3 separate regions of the Homo sapiens genome follow, and all the other regions are linked to region 3. The links come from fine-mapping of genetic effects on gene expression. A gene starts in region 3. Each other region holds a variant in brackets. All regions are shown on one strand. Distances are between the middles of the regions.

The links. PIP is the estimated chance that this variant, and not a neighbour inherited with it, causes the effect.
Region 1: its variant is the best candidate, but not a certain one, in a credible set for the expression of ASB3 in lymphoblastoid cells (GEUVADIS, PIP 0.65).
Region 2: its variant is the best candidate, but not a certain one, in a credible set for the expression of ASB3 in whole blood (TOPMed, PIP 0.69).

The regions. Positions count from the first base shown.
Region 1 is chr2:53,755,602-53,766,181 of GRCh38, forward strand. It overlaps ASB3 (ankyrin repeat and SOCS box containing 3), which reads right to left. Exons shown (of 10, transcript NM_016115.5): 2 at 9,776-9,984. The coding sequence starts at 9,971. It overlaps GPR75-ASB3 (GPR75-ASB3 readthrough), which reads right to left. Exons shown (of 10, transcript NM_001164165.2): 2 at 9,776-9,984. Among named protein-coding and RNA genes, the nearest start is that of CHAC2, 6.9 kb to the right of the region's middle. The variant A/G (reference allele first, on the strand shown) is at 4,821.
Region 2 is chr2:53,715,327-53,725,906 of GRCh38, forward strand. It overlaps ASB3 (ankyrin repeat and SOCS box containing 3), which reads right to left. Exons shown (of 10, transcript NM_016115.5): 6 at 1,240-1,417. It overlaps GPR75-ASB3 (GPR75-ASB3 readthrough), which reads right to left. Exons shown (of 10, transcript NM_001164165.2): 6 at 1,240-1,417. Among named protein-coding and RNA genes, the nearest start is that of CHAC2, 47 kb to the right of the region's middle. The variant C/A (reference allele first, on the strand shown) is at 5,494.
Region 3 is chr2:53,780,958-53,791,109 of GRCh38, forward strand. ASB3 (ankyrin repeat and SOCS box containing 3) reads right to left here and starts at 5,996. Exons shown (of 10, transcript NM_016115.5): 1 at 5,864-5,996. All of the region lies in intron 1 of GPR75-ASB3 (GPR75-ASB3 readthrough), which reads right to left. ERLEC1 (endoplasmic reticulum lectin 1) reads left to right here and starts at 6,087. Exons shown (of 14, transcript NM_015701.5): 1 at 6,087-6,415. The coding sequence starts at 6,254. RefSeq lists enhancers at 5,486-6,144, 5,660-6,079.

The DNA of each region.
Region 1 (10,580 bases), 25 kb before region 3:
TTTAGGTATTATAAGAAAAGGTTATATATAAAATAATTTCCACAATGCAAGGAATTGTATTATGTGCAAACTTCTCAGACAACCCTCAGCAGAGACTTCATAATGCACACAAGATGCATGGAAGAAGTCAGTGAAGAGGAAGAGGTTGAAAGGCATTACAAAGAAAGTAGACACTGTTAAGAAAAGTGACGAGAAAATACCCGAAACACATATAACACCGAAGGATTAATATCCAGAATACATAAAGAGCTCTTTAAAGATAAGGCAAGGCCTAATGCAGTGGCTCATGCCTGTAATCCCAGCACTTTGGGAGGCCAAGGAAGGAGTATCACTTGAGGCCAGGAGTTTTGAGACCAACCTGGACAAAATAGTAAGACCCCCCCCCCACCTCTACAAAATATAGAAAATAAAAAAATTAGCCTGATGTGATGGCATATGTCTGCGGTCCCAGTTATTCCAGAGACTGAGATGGGAGGATCACTTGAGCCCAAGAGTTGGAGGCTGCAATGAGCCATGATCACACCACTGTACTCCAGCTTGAGCAACAGAGTAAGACCCCATCTCTTTAAAAAAATTTTTTTAATTAAAAAAATAAAAATAAGGTAAGTCTAGAACTTCCAAAGGGAAATCCTGCCTGTCTAACGACATCATTCTAATAGTAGAATCCAGCAGTCTCTGAAGAGACCCATCACTCAGATTTACATTTACTTGAGCTACTATATTCCCTTTCTTTGCTTAAGCTAGTTTGAACTAGGTTTCTTTCACTCAGTACTGAAAGAATCCTGATTAACATAGCATACAATTTAGCAGTATCTATAAATATTTTAACTTGGCATGGTGATGGTTAATTTTACATGTCAACTTGACTGGGTTAAGGGATGCCCAGATAGCTGCTAAAACATTTCTGGGTATATCCATGAAGATGTTTCAGGAAGACATTACCATTTGAATCAGCAGACTGAATAAACAAGACTTGCCCTCACCAATGTGGGCAGGCATCATGTAATCCTTCAAGGACCTAAAAGAAAAAAAAGGCAGGGAACCCCCTTTGGGTCCCCTCCCATTGTATGGGAGCTCTGTTTTCACTCTATTAAATCTTGCAACTGCACACTCTCTGGTCCGTGTTTGTTCCAGTTCAAACTGAGCTTTCACTCACCGTCCACCACTGCTGATCACCGTCGTCGCAGACCCGCTGTTGACTTCTACCCCTCCGATCTGGCAGGGTGTCCACTGCACTTCTGATCCAGCGAGGCGGCGCCCATTGCCACTCCCAGTCGGGCTAGAGGCTCACCATTGTTCCTGCACAGGCTAAGTGCCTGGGGTTCATCCTAATCGAGCTGAACAGAGCTGTAACACTCACCGCATGACCCAAGATTCCATTCCTTGGAATCCGTGAGGTCAAGAACCCGAGGTCAGAGAACAAGAGGCTTGCCACCATCTTGGAAGCAGCCTACCACCATCTTAGGAGCTCTAAGAACAAGGACCCCCCAGTAACATTTTGGTGACCACAAAGGGACCTCAAAAGCGGTGAGTAATATTGGACCACTTTCACTTGCTATTCTGTCCTATCCTTCCTTAGAATTGGAGGAAAATACCGGGCACCTGTCAGCCAGTTAAAAATAATTAGTGTGGCTGCCAGACTTAAGACTCAGGTGTGAGGCTATCTGGGAAAGGGCTTTCTAACAACGTCCAACCCTTCTGGGTTGGGAGCGTTGGTCTGCCTGGAACCAGCTTCTGCTTTCAATTTTCCTGGGGAGGCCGAGGGCCGACTAGAGGCAGAAAGCTGTCGTCCCGAACTCCCGGCGTTAGCTGGTTGAGATCATGGCGCAGCCGAAGTCTCTACTCAACAGTCGCCCGTGCATGCACCCCTACCTTTCCTTCTGACCCATACCTCCTGGGTCCCGACCATGACTTTCTTGAAAGTGTAGCCCAAAATTCTCCTTACTTCTGAATCTACTTCCTCCGATCCCTGCCTCCTAGGTACTAATGGTTCAGACTTCATTTCCTCTCCCAAGTATTAGAGCAAGTTGTATCTCCAAAGGGATCTAAGGAAGTTCTATGCTGTGTCCTTAGGTACCTAGGCTATGAACCCAGGGAATCTTGTCCCTGGTGTCCCAGTTTAGATATACAGCTCTCAACATGGGCAGTTATGTGGGACCCATTCCCCACCACCCTTGCCAGGGCCCCAAGTTTGTAAATGGCTAGGAGGATTGCTCTCTCATCATGTAAGATGCTCTCCTCCCCTGATTTTTACCCAGCTTATCCCTCTGCAATACAATCTCCAAGCCTTGGCTCCTTGGCCAGGGCCTTGAAACTCATGACCCAGTACTTTAACAACTGGAACTGGGTCTATGACAACATAATAGATCAGGATGAAAGCGAATTAAGTAACTCAAGGAGAGAAGAGACAGAGAGAGAGAGAAAAGAGAGGGAGAGAGAGAAAAAGAGAGATAGAAGTAGTAAAGAAAAAACAGTGCACCCTATTCCTTTAAAAGCCAGGGTAAATTTAAAACCTATAATTGATAACTGAAGGTCTTCTCTGTGACCCTATAACACTCCAATACTACCTTGTTGTCAGTGTAAACAAGGGCGTAGCCTGAAAACACTGAGACCACTGACAACACATAGCCTTCCTATCAAAAATCCTTAACCCAGTAACCCACGGAAAAAGGCACATGGGATAAACAGGATCCATCTCTCAAATTTCATACCGGCAAGGACTTAATCCGGGGCAACAAAAAGTTTAAGATTGATAATTAGGGCGTATTCCTACAAGGGAAAAGGACAAAGGCCCTAGTGGGCAAAAACTCTACCTCAATCCTAACTCAAAAGGTTACCTACACCCTCTCTGAAAAGAATTTGCATAAGAACTGTTGTTTATGGGAACGCATCTTGATGGGGCAGCTGGGTTGTTATAAAATACTCAGGAACCCAGCCCAGCTCTAGAACTCACCCTTGAGCGCAAAGGCAATATTGGGCATGCTGGTAAAGGACCACTAGAATCCAGCAGCCCGGACCCCTTTCTTTGTGGTCAAGAAAGGTGGGAAAAGGGGTGCAGGACTGCTACATTGGTGAGTGTAACTAATCCGATAAGCAGAGGTCCATGGGTAGTTGTACACCCTGGAAAGGAATAAGCACTAGGACCACAGAGGACGCTCTAGTCCTCTGGGATAATGCTCATTGGAAAATGACTAGAGGTGCTGGCATCCCTATGTTCTTTTTTCAGATGGGACATGTTCCCCACAAGGCAAAAACGCCCCTAAGATATATTCTGGAGAATTCGGCCCAGAGTGTATGTACCTTTTTCCCTGTCAGACTTGAAGCAAATTAAAATAGACCTAGGTAAATTATCAGATAACCCTGATGGCTATATTGATGTTTTACAAGGGTTAGAACAATGCTTTTATCGGACATAGACAGATATAATGTTGCTGCTAGATCAGACGCTAACCACAAAAGAGAGAAGTGCCACCATAACTGCAGCCAGAGAGTTTGGCAATCTCTGGTATCTCAGTCAGGTCAATGATAGGATGACAACAGAAGAAAGAGAACAATTCTCCACAGGCCAGGAGGCAGTTCCCAGTGTAGACCCTCACTGGGACGCAAAATCAGAACATGGAGATTGGTGCCGCAGACATTTGCTAACTTGCGTGCAAGAAGGCTAAGGAAAACTAGGAGGAAGACTATGAATTATTCAATGATGTCCACTATAACACAGGAAAAGGAAGAAAAATCCTACCGCCTTTCTGGAGACACTAAGGGAGGCTTTGAGAAAGCATACCTCTCTGTCGCATGACTCTATTGAGGGCCAACTAATCTTAAAGGATAAGTTTATCACTCAGTCAGCTGCAGACATTAGAACAAAACTTCAAAAGTCCGCCTTAGGCCCGGAGCAAAACTTAGAAACCCTACTGAACTTGGCAACCTCAGTTTTTTATAATAAAGATCAGGAGGAGCAGGCAGAACGGGATAAACGGGATAAGAAAAAGGCCACCACTTTAGTCATGGTCTTCAGGCAAATGGACTTTGAAGGCTCTGGAACAGGGAAAGGCTGGGCAAATCGAATGCCTAACAGGGATTGCTTCCAGTATGGTTTACAAGGACACTTTAAAAAAGATTGTCCGAATAGAAATAAGCCTCCCCCTCGTCCATGCCCCTTATGTCAAGGGAATCATTGGAAGGCCCACTGCCCCAGGGGACGAAGGTCCTCTGAGTCAGAAGCCACTAACCAGATGATACAGCAGCAGGACTGAGGGTGTCCGGGGCAAGCACCAGCCCACGCCATCACCCTCACAGAGCCCCGGGTATGCTTGATCATTGAGGGCCAGGAGGTTAACTGTCTCCTGGACACTGGCGCAGCTGTCTCAGTCTTACTCTCCTGTCCTGGACAACTGTCCTCCAGATCTGTCACTATCTGAGGGGATCCTAGGACAGGCAGTCACTATATACTTCTCCCAGCCACTAAGTTGTGACTGGCGAACTTTACTCTTTTCACATGTCTTTCTAATTATGCCTGAAAGCCCCACTCCTTTGTTAGGGAGAGACATCCTAGGAAAAGCAGGGGCCGTTATACACTAGAATTAGGAGAAGGAAAAAGGGTAAATATATATAAAGACTCTAAGTATGCTTACCTAACTCTCCATGCCCATGCAACAATATGGAGAGAAAGGGAATTCCTAACTTCCGAGGGAATACCTATCAAACATCAGGAAGACATTAGGAGATTATTTTTGGCTCTACAGAAACCTAAAGAGGTGGCAGTTTTACACTGCCAGGGTCACCAGAAAGAAAAGAAAAGAAGTAGAAGGGAACCGCCAAGC[A/G]GATATTGAAGCCAAAAGAGTTGCAAGGTAGGACCCTCCATTAGAAATGCTTACAGAAGGACCCCTAGTATGGGGTAATCCCCTCCAGGAAACCAAGGCCCAGTACTCAGCAGAAGAAATAGAATGGGGAACCTCAAGAGTACATAGCTTCTTCCCCTCAGGATGGCTAGCCACTGAAGAAGGAAAAATACTTTTGCCTGCAGCTAACCAATGGAAATTACTTAAAACCCTTCACTAGACCTTTCACTTAGGCATTGATAGCACCCATCAGATGGCCAAATCATTATTTACTAGACCAGGCCTTTTCAAAACTATCAAGCAGATAGTCAGGATCTGTGAAGTGTGCCGAAGAAATAATCCCTGGCACTTCAGGCCTACATTTCAATCCCTGTATCTTTAACCTCCTTGTTAAGTTTGTCTCTTCCAGAATCAAAGCTGTAAAATTACAAATTGTTCTTCAAATAGAACCCCAGATGCAGTCCATGACTAAGATCTACCGTGGACCCCTGGAACAGCCTGCTAGCCCATGCTCCGATGTTAATGACATTGAAGGCACTCCTCCTGATGAAATCTAAACTGCACGACCCCTACTATGCCCCAATACAGCAGGAAGCACTTAAGAGCAGTCGTCGGCCAACCTCCCCAACAGCACTTGGGTTTTACTGTTGAGAGGGGGGACTGAGAGACAGGACTAGCTGGATTTCCTAGGCAGACTAAGAATTCCTAAGCCTAGCTGGGAAAGGTGACCGCACCTACCTTTAAACACCGGGCTTGTAACTCAGCTCACACCTGACCAATCAGGTAGTAAAGAGGGCTCACTAAAATACAAATTAGGCTACAGCATGAGGTAAAGAAATAGTCAAATCATATATCGCCTGAGAGCACAGAGGGAGGGACAATGATCAGGATATAAACTCAGGCATTCGAGCAGGGAGCAGCAACCCCCTTTGGGTCCCCTCCCGTTGTATGGGGGCTCTGTTTTCACTCTATTAATCCTGCAAATGAAAAAAAAAAGGCAGAAGGAGAATTCATTCTCTCTTGAACTAGGACATGCATCTTCTCCTGCCCTTGGATACTGGAGATCCTGATCCTCAGGCCTTCAAACTCCAGGACTCATACCAGTGGCCTCCCACACCCCAGTTCTCAGTCCTTTGGCCTCAGACTGAGAGTTACACTATCACTTCCCCTGGTTCTCAGGCCTTCAGACTTAGGGTGAGTTACACCACCAGCTTTCCTGGTTCTCCATCTTACAGAGAGCATATGATGGGACTTCTCAGCTCCCATAATTACATTAGCCAATTCCCATAGTAAATCCCCTCTTGTCTATCTATATATATTCTATTGGTTCTATTTCTCCAGGAAACTCTAACTTATCAAACAGTAATTGCACTTCTAAAACTCCATCCTACAGAAATGGTTAACCATGTAGACAAAGATATATACATAAGGATGTTCACTGAATCACTAGTTATAACAGCAAAACTTTAGGAAACAAACAAAATATCTATCAATAGAAGAATGGTTACATAAATTACATTACATCTCTACCATGAAATACTACACAAAAGTGTTTTCACTCAAGAGAGCAGAAGAGTGACTTGGTCTGTTGCATTTTAAAATGATCCCTCTAATATATTGAGGGTGGTCTGTCATAGGATGCAGAAGGAGCAATGGCAGATAGAGAAGATCTGTTAAGATGCTATTATAGCAACGCAGACAAGGTATTAATGGTAGTGAGAAGTGATCTAACTGTGTGTGTGTGTGTGTGTGTGTATACATACACACAAATATAGACATACACATACACAAATTTGCTGACTGACTAGATGAGAAATATGAGAAAAAGAAAGGAATTAATGATGGCCCAGAGTTTCTGGCCTGAGCTGGAACAATGGAATATTTCTATCTAACAGATGAAAAAACTAAACCACTTAGAGGTTAAAAAACCTGTCCAAAGTCACACCAATAAAATGGTAGAGTCACTAGAATTCAGGTCCATCTGACCGTAACTCTTAATCGCTGTGCTACAATGATTTATTTGTCTAAGGAACTTCTGCATCTGTTACTGTGCCCAGTATTAGTGCGTATTTTCTTATTTAACATGAACTAATAAAAAATACTATGAGCTAGATCATTTATTAGCCAAATAAAAGTATTTTTTAGCTATATGCTTAATAATTATAAGATTTTTAAGGGACTTTTAGTCAGCAAATGACTTATTATTGAATGGCATTAATTGTCAGTGAAGATCATTACTGCCCTCCAGGATGACAAGCTTCATAAAATCTCAACACCCATTACACCCAACCTCCAATACAGGAGAGAAGACAAGCAAATTTGTTATCTGTGCTAATATGTTAAACAGAAAACTAAAATGAGATACATAAGAAATACAAAAATATGTATGCATATTAAACTTCTATGTAATCTACACCACACTTGAATGCTCTTCTCCAACTTGAGTCAGAAGACCATGTATGGTACTCAGAATGGATTCCAAATCTAAATTGAAGAGACAGTGAAGCAAAACTCTTCTAATCATTTTAGATATTTCCATTTTATTTGTGTAGGCCTACATACCTTCTTATTTGGGTGCACTAATTATCTTTTAGGAATCTCTGACAGTGTATTAATATTAGATAAACCTCAGGGAGGTAGGAAAATTATATAATAAAAGACAGCAGGTGTGATGCATCACACCTGTAATCCCAGCACTTTGGGAAGCCAAGGCAGGAGGATCACTTGAGCCAAGGGTTTGAGACCAGCCTCGGCAACAAAGTGAGACAGTTAGCCAGGCATTGGTGGTGTGCACCTGTAGTCCCAGCTACTTGGGAGACTGAGGCAGGAGAACCGCTTGAATCTGGGAGGTGGAGGTGGTGGTGAGCTGAGGTCGCACCACTGCACTCCCACCTGGGCAACAGAGCAAGACTCTGTCTCAGAAAAAAAGGAAATACAGTCGGGCTTCTGTATCCACGGGTTTTGCACCTGCAGATTCAACCAACTGGGATGGAAGATAATAGCATTTGTAGGATGTGGAACCCACAGATACAGACGGCTGACCTTTTGTATGTGTGTATAGGACGTTTTCCTATCTTCAGGGCAGACTGCCGAACTTGAGGAGCATCCATGAATTTTGGTGTCCGTGGACATTTTGGGACCAATTCCCTGTGGATATGGCAGGACAACTGTAGAGATGAATTTAACAGCCAGTTCAAATGCCTTTAGTCAAAAGCATGCCCAAGTTTACTCAGCAGATGAAAAAAATCTGTAACATAAACTACACTATTCCGATATGAAGAAGAGATGTAACAGTATATTGGAAATGAGCTTTTTGCCTAGAAAAGGATATTCAAACTCATGTCTTTGTTACTAAAAATAGTTTGGGAACTCAAGCTTTATAGTTAACTTCAAACAGATTCTGAAAACATATCTTAAGCGTTTGAAATTAGAGGAATAACATCTATTTTTCCACTATCTTCAAACACTCAACTATAATAGACACTAGACACTTGAACATGTGATTTTAAAAACAATCATGACAAATTTCCTGCATTATGATTTAGGAAGTTTAGCCTTACCATCTCTTACCTGTTAAGACAAAAAAAAGAAAAAAACAAAACAACAACAACAAAAAAAACACCTACCACTACCAAAAACAATGTAAAGATTATTTCCTTTCCCGTCCAGCAGGTAACAAATTAGTAGTTCTGATGGGCTATGGACCCAGAAGTTTATATTTTAAGGACCTATACCTGGTGATGACAAGTATGCAGGAAAGAGGGTCTGAATTTCCACGATCAATGAAATGAAATTGGTTCTGAGTGTTACAATGCAGAGTATTATAGTCAACCTCATTTTAACTGAATGCTATAAATTCATTCAATTAAATGTTAGAAGCTTGGTATGAGAGGAAAAAAAAGGGCTTTAGAGTCAGAGAAATGGGTTCAAATCAAATACCCTAGTTTATTATGTAACCTTTTACAAGTCAACTTCTCTGAGCCTTGGTCTTTTCACCAATAAAATGAGGATAATACTGCCTCTAACACCATTTTTATAAATATTAGATAAAGAAGATAAATTGAGCATGTGGCACAATGACTATCACAAAGCAATGCTCAGTCACCATTTGTTTTCTTCCTACCCCCTCTATACTAAATGTCAGAATCTCGCCTTTAGTCAATGACCTTCACTCAGTAGTGTGCTGGTTAACATTTAATAACTAGCTGTCCAGAGGGAAGAAAGCCCAGTTTATAGCACTGGTTTGTAGCACTGGCTTGTTTCTGTGGTGTAAATACTCCTACCATGGCCGATCCCAAGCATGAAGTCACTGAATGCAGAGATGTAAAGAGATGTGCAGTAGCACACCATTTTTGTCTATCCCATCTGTTTTATTATCTCTACTTTGTTTTATTTTCTTCATAACACTTTTACCTTTTTAAATTATCTTGTTTAATTATTTAGATATTTGTCATCTGTTTCCTCTGACAAGAAAAAGCATCAGGAAGGCAGGCATCTTGTTTCATGCTAAGTAGTTGTAAAAATTCCCAAAAGTATTAAAAAGTGTTTAAAAAGAAAAAGACTAATTCAATCAAAACACATCCTCAATTTCAGTACAATTGCTCTTTCTGTTTGGTAAAGGAAGAAAGAATAAACATGACCAGTAACTACCAAATGCTTAAATTCAAACAGCAGACTACTTCTCCCATATCACCTAGCTCAGTCAATAAAAAGAGGCCAGACAGAGGCACTTCCGTATAAGATGTCCAACTAGAGTATCATACTAATTGAATCCAAGGCAGGCAATCTTACTATCCTTAATAAATAAATTCAGGCAGTTATTTTATGACTATAGAAAGGGAAACAAATACTACTGTTAATAAGTTATGTATTATACTTTTTTATGTTTTATTAATCCAGCTTGTAGGCAAAGCCTCCATACCTTGAATTTACTTTACCTGCATTAATTAACATTTGCAAACATTCTACAGAGTTGTGATAAGCTGCTTCATGAATTGGCATCCATCCCCTGTTATCAGCAACATCGACACTTCGGCCCTTTTTGAGCAGTTTCCTTAAGACTTTAACATTGCCTTCCCTGGCAGCAAGTCCAACTGTAGAGCACGTGTCCGCGTAAGCCTCTGTAAAATCCATTTGTTTGACCAGTCTACAAAACAAGGTAGAAGGATAATACTATAGTCAATAAAACAACACTTCACTCCTAGAGGTCAGCAAATCACGGTGGGCCTGTCTAGTATCTCTCACATGACTGACGAAGAAGGGCCCACAATACAGAAAGTGACTGCCATGCCACAGTCTCTGCTGGTGCCTAAAGCAGGAAGTTTCTCTGTTTGGCAGATTGGAATTCCTTGGAAGGTTCCCACTAAAAACATGAAGGGACTTTTAAGTGTTCTATCTTTCCTCCTCTGGAAATGTTTGAGGAGTAGGCTTCTGCTCCTGTTCATACCCCACCACAACGCATTCTTTGGTGCTCCATTGATAAGAGCACCCTCTTTGGTGCTCCATTGATAAGAGCACCTCTGCTTAATCCCCAGTGTACACTACATTATGCAGAGATGGCCATTCAACTACCAGCAATGCTCAGCCTCAATATACAGCCCTCTATAGGAAACAACTAAACCCAAAGAGGCCAGAAAAGCAGTGAAAGATAGGTGTCATTCTAGTCTTCCTGCACCTGCTTGTCCTTTCCAGAAGAGGTTAAACACTCAGATTCTCTATGCTTGACCAAATAGACCCACTGAC
Region 2 (10,580 bases), 65 kb before region 3:
CTTTCTGGGAAAAGACAGACAGGGCTACTCTGAAGTATTTTCATAGTATTACATTTCTCTTTGTGACTTTTCCTCATGTAATGTATGTCTAAGATAACATTTAAGTAGAACTTACACTCACAAAAGGGGTTACCTTTGAAGTAGGCTATAAAGAAAATCATCAGTGACAATGAGAATTCTCAAAATTGAGAACAAATGCCCAGGAGAGTTTTGGTACCATTTAAAGTTCAGAGTACAATATCTAACACTTATGTTTAAATAAATGATCAAGAATTGGGGAAAATATCAAATTTTTAAATCTAAGTATTTTGTTAAAATAGTCTAATGTCTCTTAACTTTAATAAATGTGTTTAATTTTTTTAAGTAGGTGGGAAAAATTATACTCTCCCACAAGACATAAACATGCTTACAAATATCATTAATGAAATAGTAAAGTACTGTGTCACCTAGTGGCATAATGACCAAATTGCAGAATCTGTTTTCCTACTATGTAAACAAACTAAATTAAGTAATGAATATTTTACTATTACTTTTTAAATTAAATAATACTAATAGCAGCTATAAAAAGTGCTATTATAGAATTATGGCTCTAAAGATTCTAAACATGTATTTCTAAAAATTATTGACTGCCAATTTATGATAGGTAGCCATATTCTCACATATATTTCTAAAAATCATTGACTGCCAATTTATGATAGGTAGCCATATTCTCACAGGTATAACCAAGTTACTAGCTTCTAAGATTCCTGGAACCCCCATTTACTCTCTCTCCAATTTGAGGTTAGATCAAGAAAAGTTCAGTCAAAGGGTTTAAGACAGGGAGGACTACTTAGCACACACTCCAACAGGCATCACAAACTCAAAAGCTTTCTGGGGTCAGAGAGGTAACATGGATGGCCTCATCAGATTGATGCTTAAAGATGCCTGGGATAAAACTAGGGAGGAGGAGGCGGCGGATACAGCCATAACTAGAGAAATCAATGGGAAGAGTCAACACCCCGAGAAAGTCCCTGAGCCTACCCAGTCTGTAGCAATTCTGCCTCACAATATGAAAGTGCAGGAATAGTAGGAGCAAAAGACAGCATGAAGGACAGATTAGGGGTAGATCTGTTCACCCAGCAGATTGGTAGGGAAGAGAATATCAAAGACTTTGCCTAGAGGTGAAGGGTCTAGCCCAGATTTATTCTTTATTAGCTTTTGATTAAGAGACCATGTTTATTTTCTGTTTTTAACACTTACTTTGTATGGCCCATTTGTGCAGCTGCATGAATAGGTAACTGCCAACTGTCCTCATTACAGTAAAGATCAGGATCTGCCCCACTGGAGAGCAAAAGCTCCACACATTTTGTGTGTCCCTCTTGAGCAGCAATGAACAAGGGTGTAGCTTTGTCCAAGGCTTGACAATTGACATTTGCACCTAAGGGTACAAAATAAAACATTTAACAGATAACCCTAATACTTAAAAAAATCAACACAAATTTCAAAGGAACTACCATAAAAGGGTTTCGTAGCACGGTAAGCTTTTCCCTCTTCACTGAATGTTGGATGTTGTTATATAAACATATTTACTTTGCTAACTTCTTGGTAATCATTTAAATTGTCTTCGCTAAACTGACAGGGTAGCTCATGCCTGGAATCCCAGCAATTTAGGAAGCTGTGGCCAGAGGATTGCTTGAGGCCACGTGTTTGAGACCAGCCTGGGCAACATAGTGAGACCCTGTCTCTATCAAAAATAAAAAGGTCTTGCCTCTACGTCAGCAAGAAAACAAGTGATTCATATCTTAGAATTCATTTTTAAGCTAAAACAAAAATCCTATTCAATGAAGGATACATTTCATTCCAATCCCTCCTCCAACAAGCATTCTGGGGCCCAATAAGTAAACATTTAAAAAGAAAAATGCAAACTATCAAACATGGATAATATTTCTGATAACTGCTGAAAAAGATAAAATCCAAATTATGCCACTAATTGATTCAGGCTAAGATTTATGAAAAATTATCAGTAGATATGACATATATGGGAGCCACGCCTTAAAACTAATATTGACTATACTCTCTATTACATCTCTTTCTTCATAACCACTGCATGATAAATAATGCCTACAATCAGAGAAAAAGGGTCTCTTTCAACAGGTTTCTGAGTTGATATTTAAAATCATAAATGTGAAAGGGAAAAACAATAATATTATAGTGAAAGAAAGAAAAAGAAAAAAATCCCACCTGCATGAAAATAATTACAAAAATTAGAAGTGTGAACATCTCCAGATGAAAAGGAACTACCCCAAGAATTTTGGATTTGTGAAAAATCTAAATATAGTGACACCACTGAAGGATCACAGTCGTGTTCCCGCAATGGTTCCTGACCCAAATGGAAACTCAGAAATGACAGATAAAGAATTCAAAGCAAGGATTGCAAGGAAGCTCAACAAGATCCAGACAAGGTTGAAAATAAACACAAAGAAACTTCTAAAGCAATTCAGGAAATGAAGGCATCTTAAGATAAACATCTTAAAAAGGAATCAATCAGAGCTTCTGGAATTGAAAAACTCACTTAAGGAATTTCAAAATATAACTGCAAGTTTTATTAATAGACTAGGCCAAGCAGAAGGAAGAATTTTGGAGCTTGAAGATCAGTCTTTCAAACTAACCCAGTCAGATAAAAATAAAAATAAAAAATTTTTAATGAAAAAGGCTTTGAGAAATATTTGATAATGTAAAGCAACCAAATCTATGAATTATTGGTATTCCTGAGAGAGAAGGAGAAAAAGTAAATGACCTGGAAAACATATTTGAGGACATAATTTAAGAAAATTTCCCTAATCTTGCCAGAGAGGAAGACATCCAGATAGAAGCAATACAGAGAACTCTCTGTGAACGTGAATATCACCATGGCATACAGTCACCAGACTGTTGAAGGTTAACACTAAAGAAAAAATCTTACAGGCAGCTAGAGAAAAACGTCAGATCACATACAAAAGGAACAGTGGACTTCTCAGCAGAAACCTTACAAGGCAAGAGAGATTGGGGGTCTATTTTCAGCATTCTTAAAGAGAGGACACTACAACCAAGAATTTCATATTCCACCAAACTAAGCTTCACAAACGAAGGAGAAATAAAATATTTTACAGACAAGCAAGCGATAAGACAATTTGTTACCACTAGACCAGTCTTAGCAGAGATCCTTAAGGGACTTTTAAACATGGAAATGAAAGAACAACACTGATACCACAAAAACACACTGAAGTACATAGCCCAAAGACCCCATAATACAATCATACAATAGAAACTGCAAAGCAACCATCTACCAACTTAATAATAGGATCAAAACCTCACATATCAATATTAACCTTGAATGTAAAGGGTCTCTTCAGATCATACAAATCTTTCGCCTTTTACGAAACATCCTGCCTAAAAGGCACACAGCTGCAATTTGGATTAAAAAAAAAAAAAGAAAGAAAAAAGACCCATCCATCTGCTGCCTTCAAGAGACACGTCTCACATGTAACAACACCCATAGGCTCAAAGTAAAGGGTTGAAAAAAGATTTATCAACCAAATGGAAAACAAAAAAGGTCAGGGGTCACTAGTTTTTTATTTTATTTTATTTTATTTTTGAGACTGAGTCTCGCCGTGTCGCCAGGCTGGAGTGCAATGGTGCGATCTCGGCTTACTGCAACCTCTGCCTCCTGGGTTCAAGCAATTCTCCTGCCTCAGCCTCCCGAGTAGCTGGGACTACAGGCATGCACTACCACGCCCAGCTGATTTTTGTATTTTTAGCAGATAGAGACGGGGTTTCACCATGTTGGCCAGGATGGTCTTGATCTCTTGACCTCGTGATCCACCCACCTCGGCCTCCCAAAGTGCTGGGATTACAGGCGTGAGCCACCACGCCCAACCAGGGGTCAATATTCTTATATCAGATAAAACAGACTTTAAATCAGACAACAGAGCCAGGCACAGTGGCTCACGCCTATAAGCCCAGAGCTTTGAGAGGCCGAAGTATGACAGAGCAGGAGTATCACCATCTTGCACAAGCACTGTTATTTTCCAATTCACCTTAATCAAAAACTTCCTAAATCCAAAGCGCATCAGCCTAAATGGCTAAGATCAGCATGATCATAAACAAAAAAAGCATCTCCGACCAGGAACATGCCAAACTCCTCTGCGACCAGAGACATGCTAGCTGCCCTGCTCTGGCTGGGAAGATGCCAGCCCCGAGATAACTCCCTTCCTTCTAGAAAGACGTCAGCCCCAAGATAATCCCCCCTTCACCCAGAGACATTCCAACCTCACCATAAACTTCTCCCCCACACATAAACACTCCAAGCTTGTGATAAGCCCCCTCACCCTAAAACCAATATATACTCATGTACTTAGCCTGTAAGAGAAAGTGCTCCTGATCGAAATCAGCCAGAAACCCTTCTCAGGTTTTATCTAAAGTAAACCTGTCTTTAACTGCCAACCCATCTTTTGTGTTTCTTTCCTCTTTCTTTAACTCTTACAAGGGGGGAGGATCGCTTGAGCTCAGGAGTTCAAGACCAGCCAGGGCAATGTGAAAGGAAAATAAATCTTGGGACCCCCACAATCACTAAGCCAAAGGGAAAAGTCAAGCTGGGAACTGCTTAGCGCAACCCTGCCTCCTATTCTATTCCTAAAAAATAGCTACTAAGATTAGAAAAAGTTACGTACCTCCCTCACAAGGAATTTCCCTGTGGACGAAGGACAGACAGAACTCAAACTCAAAGTCATCCCTCTGCTCACTGGGATAAGTGCATATCTGAGTGCCTCCTTTGGAAAGGCTAATCAGAAACTCAAAAAAAAAAAAAAAGGCAACCATTTGTCTCCTACCTACCTATGACCTGGACATACTCTCCCCACTTTGAGTTGTCCCGCTTTTCCAGACAGAACCAATGTATATCTTATATATGTTGATTGATGTCTCATGTATAAAACGTATAAAACCAAGTTGTGCCCCAACCACTTTGGGCATATGTTGCCAGGACCTCCTGAGGCTGTGTCACAGGCACATGCCCTTAATGTTGGCAAAATAAACTTCCTAAATTGACTGAGATCTCTCTCAGATATTTGGGGTTCACAGCAACACAGTGAGACCCCATTTCTATTCAAGAAAAAATTATATATAAAAAAACCAACAACAGTACAAAAGGACAAAGAAGGTAATTACATAATGATAAAGGGTTCAATTCAATGAGAAGACTTAACTATCCTAAATATACACACACCCAACATTGAAGCATCCAGTTTCATAAAACAAGCTCTTAGAGATCTATAGAGATAGCAATAATGTTGGGAGATGTCAAATCCCATTGACAGCATTAGACAGATCACTGAGGCAGAAAATTAAAAAACAAATTCTGGGTGTAAATTCAACATTTGACCAATTGGACCTAATACACATCTAAAGAACACTCCACTCATCAACCACAGAATATATATTCTTCTCAACAGCACATATAACATACTCCAAGACAGA[C/A]CACATGCTCGGCCAAAAAGCACATCTCAATAAATTTAAAAAACTGATTCACTTGTGAGGCCGAGATGGGCAGATCACTTGAAGGTCAGGAGTTTGAGACCAAATTGGCCAACACGATGAAACCCCATCTCTACTAAAAATACAAAAAAATTAGCTGGCCACAGGGGTGCGCGCCTGTAATCCCAGGTACTCAGGAGGCTGAGGCAGGAGAATTGCTTGAACCAGGAGGGGGAGGTTGCAGTGAGCCAAGATCATGCCACTGCACTCCAGTCTGGGTACAGAGCAAGACCCTGTCTCCAGAAATATAAATAAATAAATAAATAAATAAATAAATAAATAAATAAACTGAATTAATACCAACCATACTCTCAGACCACAGTAGAATAAAAATAGAAATCAATACCAAGAAGATCTTCCAAAACCACACAATTACATAGAAATTAACTTGCTCTTGGCTGGGCACAGTGGTTCACGCCTGTAATCCTAGCATTTTGGGAGGCCAAGGCAGGCAGATTGCCTGAGCTCAAGAGTTCGAGACCAGCCTGGAAATGTGGTGAAACCCCATCTCTACTAAACTACAAAAAAAAAAAAAAAAAAAAAAATTAGCCAGACATAGTGGTGTGTGCCTATAGTCCCAGCTACTCAGGAGACTGAGGCAGGAGAATTGCTTGAACCTGGGAGGCGGAGGTTGCGGTGAGCCTAGATGGTGCCACTGCACTCCAGCCTGGCGATAGAGTGAGACTCTGTCTCAAAATCAAACAAACAAACAAACAAACTTGCTCTTGGATAACTTTTAAGTAAACAATAAAATTATGGCAGAAATCAAAAAATTCTTTGAAATAAATAAAAACAGACACAGAACATATTAAAATGCAGCAAAAAGTGTTAAGAAGTTTATAATGCTAAACATCTAGCTCAGAAAGAAAGATCTCAAATTAATGATCCAATATCACACTTCGAGGAATAAGAAAAAACAGAACAAACTAACCCCAAAGCTATTAGAAGAAAAAAAATAATTAAAATCAGAGTGGAACTGAATGAAATTGAGACCCAAAAATCCATACAAAGGATCAATGAAACCAAAAGTTGGTTCTTTGAAAGGATAAACAAAATTGACAGACTGCTAGCTAGATAAAAAAAAGAGCGAAGGTCCAAATAAGCACAATCTGAAACAACAAAGTTGACATTACAATAGATTCTACAAAAATACACAAGATCCTCTGAGACTATTACGAACACCTCAATGCACGCAAATGAGAAAATCTAGAGGAAATGGATAAATCACACAATCTCTCAAGACTGAATCAGAAAGAAATTGAAATAGACCAATATCAAGTTCCAAAACTGAATCCATAATAAAAAAAAAAAAAACCTACCAACCAAAAGTCCTGGACCACATGAATTCACAGCCGAATTCTACCAGACATACAAAGAAAAACCAGTACCAATTCTACTGAAACCATTCCCAAAAATCAAGGAGGAGAGACTCCTCCCTAACTTGTTCTACAAAGCCAGCATCACCCTAATACAAAAATCTGGCAAAGACACAATGAAGAAAGAAAAGTACAGGCCAATAGTGCTGACGAACATAGATACAAAAATTCTCAACAAAATATTAGCAAATTAAATCCAGCAACACATCAAAAAGTTAATGCATCATGATCAAGTAGGCTTCATTGTTGAGAAACAAGGTTGGTTCCATATATGCAAATGAATAATTGGGATTCACCACGTAAAGAAAATTAAAAACCAAAACTATATGATCATCTCAACAGATGTGAGAAAAGCCTTCATAAAACCCAACATCCCTTCATGATAAAAACAAAACAAACAAAACAAAACCCTCAACAAACTAGGCATTGAAGGAATGTATCTTAATAAGAATCATCTATGACCAACCCACAGCCAACATCATACTGAACAGGCAAAAGCTGGAAGCATTCTCCTAGAGAAATGGAAGAAGACAAGGATACCCACTCTTACCACTCCTATTCAACATAGTACTGAAAGTCCTTGCCAGAACAATCAGGCAAGAGAAAGAAATAAAAGGCATCCAAATAGGAAAAGAAGAAGTCAAACAATCTCTCTTCTCTGACAATATGATTCTATACCAAGAAAACCCTGCAGACTCCACAAAAAGGCTCCTGAAGCTGATAAACAACTTCAGTAAAATTTCAGGTTACAAAATCAATGTATAAAATCAGCAGCATTTCTATACATCAACAATGTTCAAGCTGACAGCCAAATCAAGAACACAACTCCATTTATAACAGCCACCAAAAAAAAATTTTAAACCTGGGAATACATCTTACCAAGGAGGTGAAAGATCTCTACAAGGAGAACTACAAAATACTACTGAAAAAAAATCATAGATGACACAAACAAACGGAAAACGCTGCTCACGGATTGCAAAAATCAATATCATTTTAAAAAATACCCATACTGCCCAAAGCAATCTATAGATTCAACACTATTCCTTTTTTTATTTTTTCCCCTGTTAAATGTCAGAGTTTTTTGTTTTTGATTTTCATAAGTTATTGGGGAACAGGTAGTGTTTGGTTACATGAGAAAGTTCTTTAGTGGTGATTTGTGAGATTCTGGTGCACTCATCACCCAAGCAGTATACACTGCACCCAATTTGTGATCTTTTATCCCTCACCCCCTTCCCATCCTTTCCCTGAGTCCCTGAAGTGTCATTTTTATGCTTCAATGCTATTCCTATCAAACTACCGACACCATTTTTTACAGAATTAGAAAAAAAATTTCTTAAATTCATATGGAACCAAAAAAGGGCACAAATAGCCAAAGCAATACCAAGCAAAAAGAATAAAGCTGGAGGTATCACATTACCCAATTTCAAACTCTACTTTAAGGCTACAGTAACCAAAACAGCATGGTCCTGGTACAAAAACAGACACAAAGACCAATGGAATAGAATAGAGAATCCAGAAATACAGCCATGCACCTACAGCCATCTGATCTTTGACAAAGTTGACAAAAATAAGCAATGAGTTAGAGACTCCTTATTCAATAAACGGTGCTAGTATAGCTGGCTAGCTACATGTAGAAGAATGAAACTGGAACCCTATCTTTCACTATATACAAAAATCAACTCAAGATGGATTAAAAGTTTAAATGTAAGACCTCAAACTATAAAAATCCTAGTTAGAAAAAAAAATGAGAAAACACTGTTCTGGACATCGGCCCTGAGAAAGAATTTATGACTAAGTTCTCAAAAGCAATTGCAACAAAAACAAAAATTGGTAAGTGGGACCTAATTAATCTCTTTAGATTAATTAAGCTCTTTAGCTTCTGTAAAACAGAAGAATCCACAGACAACCCACAGAATAGGAGAAAATATTTGCTAACTAGGTATCTTTATAGATTCTGGATATTACACAAAGGTCTTTATCTTAACTTTGTCCAATATCTAGAATCTATAAGGAACTTAAACAATTCAACAAGCAAAAAACAACCCCATTAAGAACTGGGCAAAAGGACTGGGCACATTGGCTCACGCCTGTAATCTCAGCACTTTGGAGGCCAAGGCGGGTGGATCACGAGGTGAGGAGATCAAGACCATCCTGGCTAACACGGTGAAAACCCCATCTCTACTAAAAATACAAAAAATTAGCCAGGCATGGTGGCACGTGCCTGTAGTCCCAGCTACTTGGGAGGCTGAGGCAGGAGAATCACTTGAACCCAGGAGGCAGAGGTTGCAGTGAGCAGAGATAGTGCCACTGTACGCCATCCTGGGCAACATAGCAAGACTCCATTTCAAAAAAAAAAAAAAATTGGGCAAAAGACATGAAAAGATACTTCTCAAAAGAAGACATAGAAGCAGCCAACAAACACATGAAGAATTGCTCAACATCACCAATCACCACAGAAATGCAAATCAAAACCACAATGAGATATAATCTTATACCACTCAGAAAGGCTATTACTAAAAAGTCAAAAAACAACAGATGCTAGAGAGGTTGCAGACAAAGGGGAACGCTTATACATTCTTGGTGGGAATGTAAATTAGTTCAGCCACAGTGGAAAGCAGTTTGGAAATTTCTCAAAGAACTTAAAACTACCATTCAACCCAGCAATTCCATCACTGGGTATATATCCAAAAGAAAATAAATCATTCAACAAAAATATACATGCACTTGCATGTTCATCACGGCACCATTCACAATAGCAAAGACATGGAATCAACCTAGGTGCCCATCAATGGATACCTGGTGGATCAGATAAAGAAAACACAGTAGATGTACACCATGGAATACTACGCAGCCATAGAAAAGAATAAAATCATGTCCTTTCAGCAACATGGATGCAGCTGGAGGCCATTATTCTAAGTGAATTAACAAATTAACAAAAACCAAATACTGCATGTTCTTACTTATAAGTGGAGGCTAAACACTGGGTACTCAAGGACATAAAGATAGCAACAACAGATACTGGGGACTAATAGAGAGGGGAGGCAGGGAACAGGGCAAGGGCTGAAAAGCGAACTGTTGAGTACTATGCCCACTGTCTAAGTGATGAGGTCATTCATATCCCAAACCTCAGCATCATGCAATACACCTATGTAACAAACCTGCATGCATACCCTCTGAATCTGAAATAAAAGTTGAAATTATAAAAAATAAAATAAAATCACAAATCTAATTAAATTATATATACGCCATTGTATAAAGATTTTTAAAAGCTAACCTCACTTTTTGTGAAGATTTTGAAAATAGCAGTCATCTCCAAACTTTTCTTGTTGGCAAATAATGTATTAAATATGCTACATATGATGTTGTTACATGACCATGAGAGTTTTTTAAATTTCTAGAATACATTTCGGTGGAAAGATCATCATCAAGACGGAAAAGGCTGTCTTCTATTTAAAAGAATATTCCATAAATGCACCTTGAATAAACCAAAGTTTTATGTACGCAAAAACTACACAGAACACAAATGGTAAATTAAAGAGTCTATAGATCCTTCAGAAATTTCTCATGATAGAAACTAGAAACTTCATGATTTCTATAGGGTAGATGTTTCACCCACTGTCAGTTTCAGAAAGAAGTAAACACTATAACTGAAAA
Region 3 (10,152 bases):
TGTATATTAACTCATTTAATCCTTATTTTCTACGATGATGAAAATTGCTTAAGTAAAACAAATGTAGTATCATTTATTGAACATTTACAACATGCCAGGAACTGTGCTAAGCACTGAACAGGAACAAAATGAAATTAAGGCCTACAATTTTAAAAAGAACAAAAAAGGAAGCCGGGCAAGTGGCTCACACCTGTAATCCCAGCACTTTGGGAGGCTTGAGGGGGCAAATCACTTGAGCCCAGGAGTTCAAGACCAGCCTGGGCAACATGGCAAAACCCTATCTCTTACAAAAAATACAAAAAAAATTAGCCAGGCGTGGTGGTGCACACCTGTAGTTCCAGCTACTGAGAAGGCTGAGGTGGGAGGATCACTTTAGCCCAGGAGGTTGAGGCTACAATGAGCCAAAACCATGCCATTGCACTCTAGTCTAGGCAACAAAGTGAGACTCTGTCTCCAAAAAAAAAAAAAAAAGTGAGAGATGGTAGTTATCTCATTTTGTACCTCCATTGGTAGGGCTTAACCCCTTTGAGATTCTTTCCATTTTTTTTTTCTTTTGAGACAGAGTTTCACTCTTGTTGCCCAGTCTGGAGTACAATGGCGCCATCTTGGCTCACCACAATGTCTGCCTCCCAGGTTCAAGTGATTCTCCTGCTTCAGCCTCCAGAGTAGCTGAGATTACAGGCATGAGCCACCACGCCTGTCTAATTTTCTATTTTCAGGAGAGACAGGGTTTCTCCAGGTTGGTCAGGCTGGTCTTGAATTCCCAACCTCAGGTGATCCGCCTGCCTCAGCCTCCCAAAGTGCTGGGATTACAGGCGTGAGCCACCACGCCCGGCGGAGATTCTTTTTTAATTAGGACAAAATAAAATAGGACTTTTTAAAACAGGATTTAAAAGATTCACCTAATTACTTATCTCCTACAGCCATAATTTTCTTTTTAAACAACAGTATGCCTTGCCCAATTTTTTCAACAGCATTGATTTATTCAACAAGTACTGGCTGGGTGCCATGGCTCACATCTGTAATCCCAACACTCTGGGAAACCAAGAATTCAAAAAATAAAAAAATTAGCTAGGCAGGCTGGTGCACACCTGTAGTCCCAGCTACTCAGGAGGCTGAGGTGATGGGAGGATCGCTTGAGCCCCAGAGGTTGGGATGGCAGTGAGCAGTGATCATGCAACTGCACTCTAGCCCGGGTGACAAAGCGAGACCCTGTCTCAAAAACAAACAAACAAACAAAAAAACAATGGATTACTCACTCTATGCAAGGCAAACTAAGCACATACATTTTCCTCCGCTTCCTAACAAAATCGCACTGAAATGCACTCATTCATTCTGGAAGAGAAAGCAGGTAGGATTATGCTGAGGATTAAGCCAGTGCAGAGAAAACTGCAGTCCAGAACACACACACATGCATACATGAGAAGGCTATAGCAATGTAGAAGACATTCTTGCCAGCAGAGCCTGGAGAGGTACCAATCTTAGAAACAAGCAGAGGAAGGACGTAGGACTAAAATCAGAATTATTATAATATTTATATGAAACAGCAAGCCAAACTTTTTACCACAGCCCTTTACACACAAAACGCCTGGCAGCAACAGTATTTGTTTCTGGCTAAAACCACATCTATTTTGTTGTTATTGCTCTTTTTAATTTAACAGTCTACCCTGGAAGCCTTTGAGCATCTTCATGTTCCATAACAAAGCATTCCTTATTTGGGTACAGGGTGGAAGGAGAGGAGGAAAGAGGCAACTCGTTTCTTGCACTTCACTCAAGGACCCTAAAGTTAGACCCAACAGCTAGTACCCTGCTCACTTACAAAAGAGCTCAATAATTTTTTTTTTTTTAGATGAAGTTTCACTTTTGTCATCCAGGCTGGAGTGCAATGGCGCAATCTCGGCTCACTGCAACCTCCGCCTCCCAGGTTTAAGTGATTCTCCTGCCCCAGCCTCTTGAGTAGCTGGGATTACAGAAGCCTGCCAAGACTTCCGGCTAATTTTTTTATTTTCGGAGAGACAGGGTTTCACCATGTTGGCCAGGCTGGTCTTGACCTTCCAGACCTCAGGTGATCTCTCAAAGTGCTGGAATTACCGGTGTGAGCCACTATGCCCCGCCAAGAATTTTTTTTTTTGAAGTAAAAGCACAACAGACAGAAAGGATGAAAATAAACAACTGACCTGAAAGAAGCAGAGCTATTTCCGGGAATGGGACATAAATATTTAAAAGTTATAAGTGTTATCCTCAAAGAAATTCATGTCATGAGAACAATGCATCCATTAAAAATAACTAGATGACTAGAAACTGTGGGGAAAAAACCACTGAAAAAAGAAAGTGAAAAGAACTGAAAATCAAGGAAATGGACCTCTTGGATTGATCCTTCGTATTATGTATTTTTTCTTTTTATATTTTTCCTCTGTATTTGGAAGAATCTATCTAAATGTATTTGGAAGAACCTATCTAAATTCTGAATAGAACAGAGAAAATGTCAAGAACATAATTAAAGAAATAATTGAAGAAAATTTCCCAGAAGTGAAAAATAGGATTCATAGAGTGCCAAGAAGGATGAATGAAAAAAGATTCACCACCTAGAAACACTGATAAAATATCACAGAACCAATGATAAAGAAAACAGTCTAATAAAATCTTCCAGAGAAAAAAGTATGATACCTGCAAAAGAAAGAGACTGGCATTAGACTTGTCATCAGATACACTAGACACAAAAAGCAAGAGAATGTCTTCAGAGTTTTGAAGAAAACAAAATGATTGTGGACTAAGTCTATTCCCAAGCTATCATTAAATGAGCAGGCAAGGTAAAGGCATTTTCAGACATATGAAGTCTGTGGAAATTAAATTACCTGTTTAATCCTTCCTGAAAAAAATTGCTTGAAATTAGTTATACCCCTACAAGGTGGGAAAAAAATCTATGACAAATGAGGACATGGAATACATAAAGCAGTAGACCTAACCCAGGCATGATACAAAAAAATCTCAGTAAACAGGTATGCAACTGACTTGTAAAGCAACTAGTCTAAATTACATGTGTGAGAGCTGGAAATACAGCTTCAGGAGCAAAATGAGTTTATTTTAGCAAACATGGTGCCATTATTAGGAAGCTAATAGGATACCTTAATTGGCAGAGGTAGAATTACATTTTTTCTCTGCAGATGCAATCATACTTAATAGTTTTATAGCGAATGATGATTGTATAATTACAATATGGTAAATAGTTGATAAGTTTTCAATGTTTAAGAATCAACCTATAAATAAAGCATAAAAGACTTGTACTGATTGATGTCCTGTGGCTCCTTAAAATGTGTAAAACCCAAGTGTAGCCCGACCACTTTGGGCACATGCTGTCAGGACCTCCTGAGGCTGTCTGTGACACGTCCTTAACCTTGGCAAAATAAACTTCTAAACTGGTTGAGACTTGTCTCAACTACTTTTTGGTTTTCATCCTCTATTACCTTCCTGAGGCTGCTGTAACAAATGACCACAAACTGAGCAGCTTAGACAGCATAAATTGATTGTCTCACAATTCTAGAAACTAGAGGTCAGAAATCAAGATGTCAGCAGGGCTATTCTCTCTCTCTGAAAGCTCTAAAGAAGGATTCTTCCTTGCCTCTTCCTAGCTTGTGGTGATTACTGGCAATCTTTAGCATTCCTTGTCTTATAGACACATACTGCAATCTTGCTGCCTCCTCCTTCCTGGCATGGCATTCTCCCTGTGTGTCCATGTGTATCCAAATTTCCCTCTTCTTATAAAGATACCAGTCACCAGATTAGGGCCCCCTTTGATTCAGTATGACCTCATCCTTACTTGAATTATATTTGCAAAGACCCTATCCCAAGTAGTTCACACTCACAGGTTCTAGGGGATAGGACTTAAACATGTCTTTTTGGGGAACACAATTCAACCCACAACACCCCCTACAATCAATTTTCCACACAGCAGCCACAATGATCTTCACAAATGTACATCGGGTCCTGTCCACTCTCCTGCCTACAGAGCTGTCTCCCTGGCCTCTTTCTGCTTCTCAAACTTCTTCTACCACTTTCCTCTTACACTCCAGCCACACTGGCCTTCTTTCTATCACTCCAACACATCAAGCTCATTCCTGCCTCAGGGCCTCTGCCTAGAAATTTGTCTGGCTCCCTTCTTTTCATCATTCAAGTCACAATTCAAATGTCACTTCCTCACAGAAGTCTCCTCTGACTTACGTACTAAAAGCAACACATCCTACAGGTATTGTCTTTCACATAACCTTAGTTTCTTTGCAGCACTTACCAATACTAGAAATTATTTTACTTATTTAAGTTCCCCTCTTACTTGAACATCAGCTCTATTGAACACAGATTCAATCACTATAGCCCTAAATGCTAAAACAGGACCTCACAGACAGTTTTCATTTTTATTCCGTCAAATACATCTCTTTTCCTTCATGACTTAAGACTAGTGCTTAGCACAGAATAAATGCTAAAAAAAAAAAAAATTGACTATTACTACTATAATAGTTTGCAATTATTTGTTTGTACAATCTCCCTGCCTAGACTGTGTGACCAAAGACAGAAACCCATTTATTTGGCATTTTACCAAGCCCAGGGGGGCCAGGCACAGTGGCTCAGGCCTGTAATCCCAGCACTTTGGAAGGCCGAGGAGGGCGGATCACCCGAGGTCAGGAGTTCGAGACCAGCCTGGCCAACGTGGTGAAACCCTGCCTCTACTAAAAATACAAAAATTAGGGTGTAGCGGCGCGCGCCTGTAATCCCAACTACTCGGAAGGCTGAGAAAAAGGAGAATCCCTTGAACTCCAGAGGCGGAGGTTGCAGTGAGCCAAGATTATGCCTCTGCACTCCAGCCTGGGTGACAGAGCGAGACTTTGTCTCAAAACAAACAACAACAACAAAAATCCCAGGAGTCTGGATCACATTAAGCATTAATAAGAAGTGCTGAATATAATTAGCGAATAACAATTCTGAAGAAAGTTATCTTCTTTGATACTATGGATTCCTGATGTTAAAAAAAAATTTTTAAGATAGAATATGGGACTGTCCTTCCTGCTTTTTGATTTGGTTCAAATCTGAGGAAGTGGGGGCGACCAGTCTTTAACAGATCTAGCAAGACTGTCGAGCTTTAGGGAATGGTAATTTCTCTAAAGCCAACACTCTATGTCCATTATATTGGAGATCAAAACAGACAATGGCATTTTTTCTAAAGAGGGGGAGGGAAAAACAAAACTTTTTGTCTAATTTGGGGATGCAGTCAGACGTGACTTAGTTCATAAACACACACATTCATCTGGCGCTAAACCTCACATAAGGAACCTTACCAGCTTCCTTGATAAAACAACACCCCAACACTTCAATCTAGAGATGGAGGGTAAAAATGTAGGGTTGTGATGTCTAGCTGCCCATTCCACGAGAGTCGCCCACCACGCCAAATTCGGAGGCTTGCGGTATTCACCTACGGGGAGATGGCGGGCTACCTCACCCCAGGTTTCCCCTAACACAGAGTTGCAGTCGCTGAACAAACTGCCCTGCGTTAGTCAGAAGCTGTTAAGTAACGAGATGGCCACGGTCCACAGCAGAAGAGATGGAGATAAGCCTCAAGCGGGAAAAATGAAGTGTACAAATGCCAAATGCGGAGAAAAAGAAGAAAAGCTGCAAGAAGGCAGGTCAGTCAGGAACACCGCCATTTCTCACATCTCATCGCTACTTCGAATTTTCTCATCTAAGGACCCGCACCCGCACGGTTCACACTGTCTTCTTCCCGCTATCACTCCGTGTGGGTCAAACCTCTGCCTGCCCACTGGAGAGCAGCGGGAATGGCTTCAGGAAGCGGCTGCCGCCTCCGAGACTCACCGACCTGCCGTGCTGCCACTTCTACACCGAAATGGCTGGTCCGAGGCCGCGTCTCCAGAGCTGCGTCCCAGAAGCCCCCGCTTTCGATCCCCACCGCGATGCTGCAGCCGTCCGAAAACGAGAGACGCGCAGGCGACGTCCCGGCCCCCGTAGGCGGACGGCTCCGCGACCCCCGGATGTTGATATGTCGTCTGCCCCGGAAACGGTGACAGGAGGCTCAAGGGGGCGGAGGCGGCGTTGCCGGGCTCTCCGGAAGGAGACGTGGCGGCGGTTGGGCCGGTGATACCCGGGCGCTTTATAGTCCCGCCGCCTCCTCCTCCACCTCCTCCTCCTCCTCCTCTCCTCCTGGAGCAGAGGAGGTTGTGGCGGTGGCTGGAGAAAGCGGCGGCGGAGGATGGAGGAAGGAGGCGGCGGCGTACGGAGTCTGGTCCCGGGCGGGCCGGTGTTACTGGTCCTCTGCGGCCTCCTGGAGGCGTCCGGCGGCGGCCGAGCCCTTCCTCAACTCAGCGATGACATCCCTTTCCGAGTCAACTGGCCCGGCACCGAGTTCTCTCTGGTCAGTGCCCTCACTAACCCCGCAGCCACCCCTCCTCCTGACACTAAGGGTTCGGCCTCTTCCCTCGGTTTTCTTTGCTTTTTCTCCCCAAGACCTTCTCTGCAGACTCTTACCTTCCCCAAGCCAAAGCTGCTTTTATGCAGCGTTCATTCATTCGTTCGTTCTCACGTTATGTGGATGCGTCCCCCTTGCTGAGCATTAGGGATCCAGCAATCACCTGCTCTCCACCTTTTCAATTCTGTCGCACTAGACCTTGCTTCCCAACATTCCCACCCTGCAGAAGCAGCTTTCGTAGAATAACGTCAGGTGCACTTACTCATCTTCCTTTCGGAAAATTAACTGTGGCTCTTACTTCACCAGCAGACTTCTTTCCTTCAGTATTACATGTCACCCTGCCCACACCACAGTACTTCAGACTCGAGTTCCCTCTCTCGTATTCGTTCTCCCTCAGTTGTATACACACACGGACATACGCAAACGCACAGCTCCAAGGGAACTTTTTCCTTTCCTAGTTGTTTCTGAGAGGGCTATTTGGCCTGTGAGATGTTAACGACCCTTTATGCAGAATATCCTTTACAGTTTTCATGTATTACGACTGTTATTTGAGTCCCCAGAACATGAGCTTCTATGTTGAGTTTTCCTGTAGTGAAGAACATTTGTAACCTCGCGGAAATGAAAATTCCCTCTTGGGGGAGTGGACCGCTGAAAAGTCTTCCTGTCCACGTGTACCTACTGCAGGCTAATAAATATTGTACTCTTATGACACTTACCATGTAGTAATTAACTCATTTACTTCAAATTGAAGTCCCGGAAAAAGCAAAATTTTTTTAAACTTTTTATTCCAATTACCTTCAAGCATTCAACTTGCAATACTTTATTATATTCTTTCATTACCATTTCATTGAAACAGTAAGTGACACTATGATGTCAAAACAAGATGTGTCAAGTTAATGGATGTTATTACCACATAGCTTTCTATTTGCAAGTGTTAGGGGTTTTTTGGTTTGGTTTGGTTTGGTTTGGGTTTTTCTGTTTTTGTTTGTTTTTTGAGACAGGGTCTCAGTCTGTTGCCCATTCTGAAGTGCAGTGGTACGGTCACCACTGGCTGCAGCCTCGACCTCCTGGGCTCAAGAGATCTCCTCAGCTTCCCAGTAGCTGGGACTATAGGGAAATCCCACCACTCCTGGCTAATTTTTTTTTTTTTTTCTAGAGGCAGGGTCTCACTATGTTGCCTAGGCTGGTCTCGAACTCCTGGGCTCAAGCAATCCTCGTGCCTGAGCCTCCCAGAATACTGGGATTACATGTGTGAACCAAATGTTCTGAATTTATCTAGGTAAATATTTTTCTGGGACGTCAAATTTCTCTTTGTATTAATGCCACAAAATATTGATACATTGAAATACCTATGTAAAATTTTGTTATGAATCAGATATAACTTTAGCAGGCTTGGAAGAGAATACTTTAATACCTGTTGTTGTATCCAAAGAGCACACTTGGAGTGAATATGGCAGATGTTTGAAGAATTATGTCATTAAAATTTTTTACTCTTGGCACCTGTGTTTTTTTTAATTTAAAAAAACTTGCTGATATGCAGCCCTGAAAACTTACTATAAGCGAGCGACTAAAACTAGCATTTTTAGAGGTCACTACCAAATTGTCATTCCATTTTCTTTCAGTCTTAGCATTTGCTACACCAACTTTTCACGTATCTAACAATTTTATTTCAAAAAAAAAATGCTTTGGCCATGTGCGGCGGCTCACATCTGTAATCCCAGCACTTTGGGAGGCAGAGGCAGGCGGATTATGAGGTCAGGAATTCAAGACAAGCCTGACCAACGTGGTGAAACCCCATCTCTACTAAAAACACAAAAATTAGCTGGGCGTGGTGGTGCACACCAGTGCTCCCAGCTACTTGGGAGGCCGAGGCAGGAGAATCGCTTAAACCCGGGAGGTGGAGGTTGCACTGAGCCAAGATTGCACCACTGCACTCCAGCCTGGGTGACAGAGTGAGACTCTGTCTCAAAAAAAAAAAAAAAAAAAAAAATTCTTTTTTTAGAAGCTGGAGTGCAGTAGGTATTTATAGGCATGATTATGCTCACTACAGCCTCAAACTCCTGGGCTCAAGCCATCCTTCTGCCTCAGCCTCCTGAACAGCGAGGACTACAGGTGGTCACCATTGCATCTGGCTTTTTTTTCTTTAAGTCTGTGCTACTTTGAGAAAAATCTAGAGTGTTCTGTGAATTGTCACAAGGCCTATGTCCTTTATGTAAAAATAAGCCACAATAGTCATTATCATTGGTCTTTTGATTTTTTTTAATACTTCTATAACCTTAAGGCTTCCCTTTGCATTTAACTGAAATTACTGGCTGGGCACAGTGGCTGACGCCTATAATCCCAACATTTTGGGAGGCCGAGCTGGGTGGATTACTTGAGCCCAGGAGTTTGAGACTAGCCTAGGCAACATGGCGAAACCTTGTCTCTACTAAAAATAAAAAAATTAGCCGGGCATGGTGGCACATGTCTGTAGTTCCAGCTACTTGGGAGGCTGAGGCAGGAGAATCGCTTGAACCTTGGAGGCAGAAGTTGCAGTGATCCGAGATCATGCCACTGCACTCCATCCTGGGCGACAGAGGAGTCTGTCTCAAAAAAAAAAAAAAAAGAAAAGAAAAGAAACCACTACTCTCCTCACCTGGCGCTGCCATTTTTTTTAATGGGCCAGTTGGTTGGACATTTGTGTTTGTGACAGAGTCTCGCTCTGTCACCCAGGCTAGAGTACAATGGCGCCATCTCAGCTTACTGCAACTTCTGCCTCCCGGGTTCAAGCGATTCTTGTTGCCCAGCCTCCCCAGTAGCTGGGATTGTAAGCGTGCGCTACCACACCTGGCTAATTTTTTTTTGTATTTTTAGTAGAGATGAGGTTTCACCATTTTGGCCAGGCTGGTCTCAAACTCCTGAACTCAAGTGATCCGCCCACCTCGGCCTCCCAAAGTGCTGGGATTACAGGCATGAGCCACCGTGCCTGGCCGCGGGTTGGACATTTGTATCTAACTAATATGCAGCTGTATGAAATAGGATAAGGTCCTTTGTCTGTTTACTAACTGAAATTGGAAGAGACTGGATTAGAAGATCTGAATTTTTTAAGCTTTAAAATTGTCTGCTTTAAATTGTCTTCCCATTCAGATATATCAAAACAATATATAATTATTTACAATCTTGCTTTCAGATTTGCTTAGAAAAAGTATTAAGCACCAAAACTGTAAAATGGGGGTTGTTTGTGTGTTTTGGTAGAGATAGTTTCCCTATGTTGCTCATGCTGGTTTCAAACTCCTGGTCAAAACTATCCTCTGGTCTCAGCCTCTTAAAGCGCTGGGATTATAGGCATGAGCCACCTCACCTGGCCAAAAAATTTGTGTATTTTTGATGTGTACATTAACTAGAGTTAATAATTATGATATTCTTTGCTTATTGATGTTTAGCACTCAGTTTTGTTTTTGTGTTAATATTTTCCTTCTGAAGTATCACCTCTGTCGTTATGTTTAATTATTCATTACTTTATAGAGTTCAGAGATTTCACCAAATTAAACCACAAATCAGTCTAATTTTCTGTCTACTTCTGTTGTTGATGTAGAATATATTTTACTCAGATTTTCCCAAGCACTACTATTTGACCAACTCCATGGTTTATAGCATGTCATATACATTGACAGGTTCTACCAACAAGTGTATTTTATAGCCTC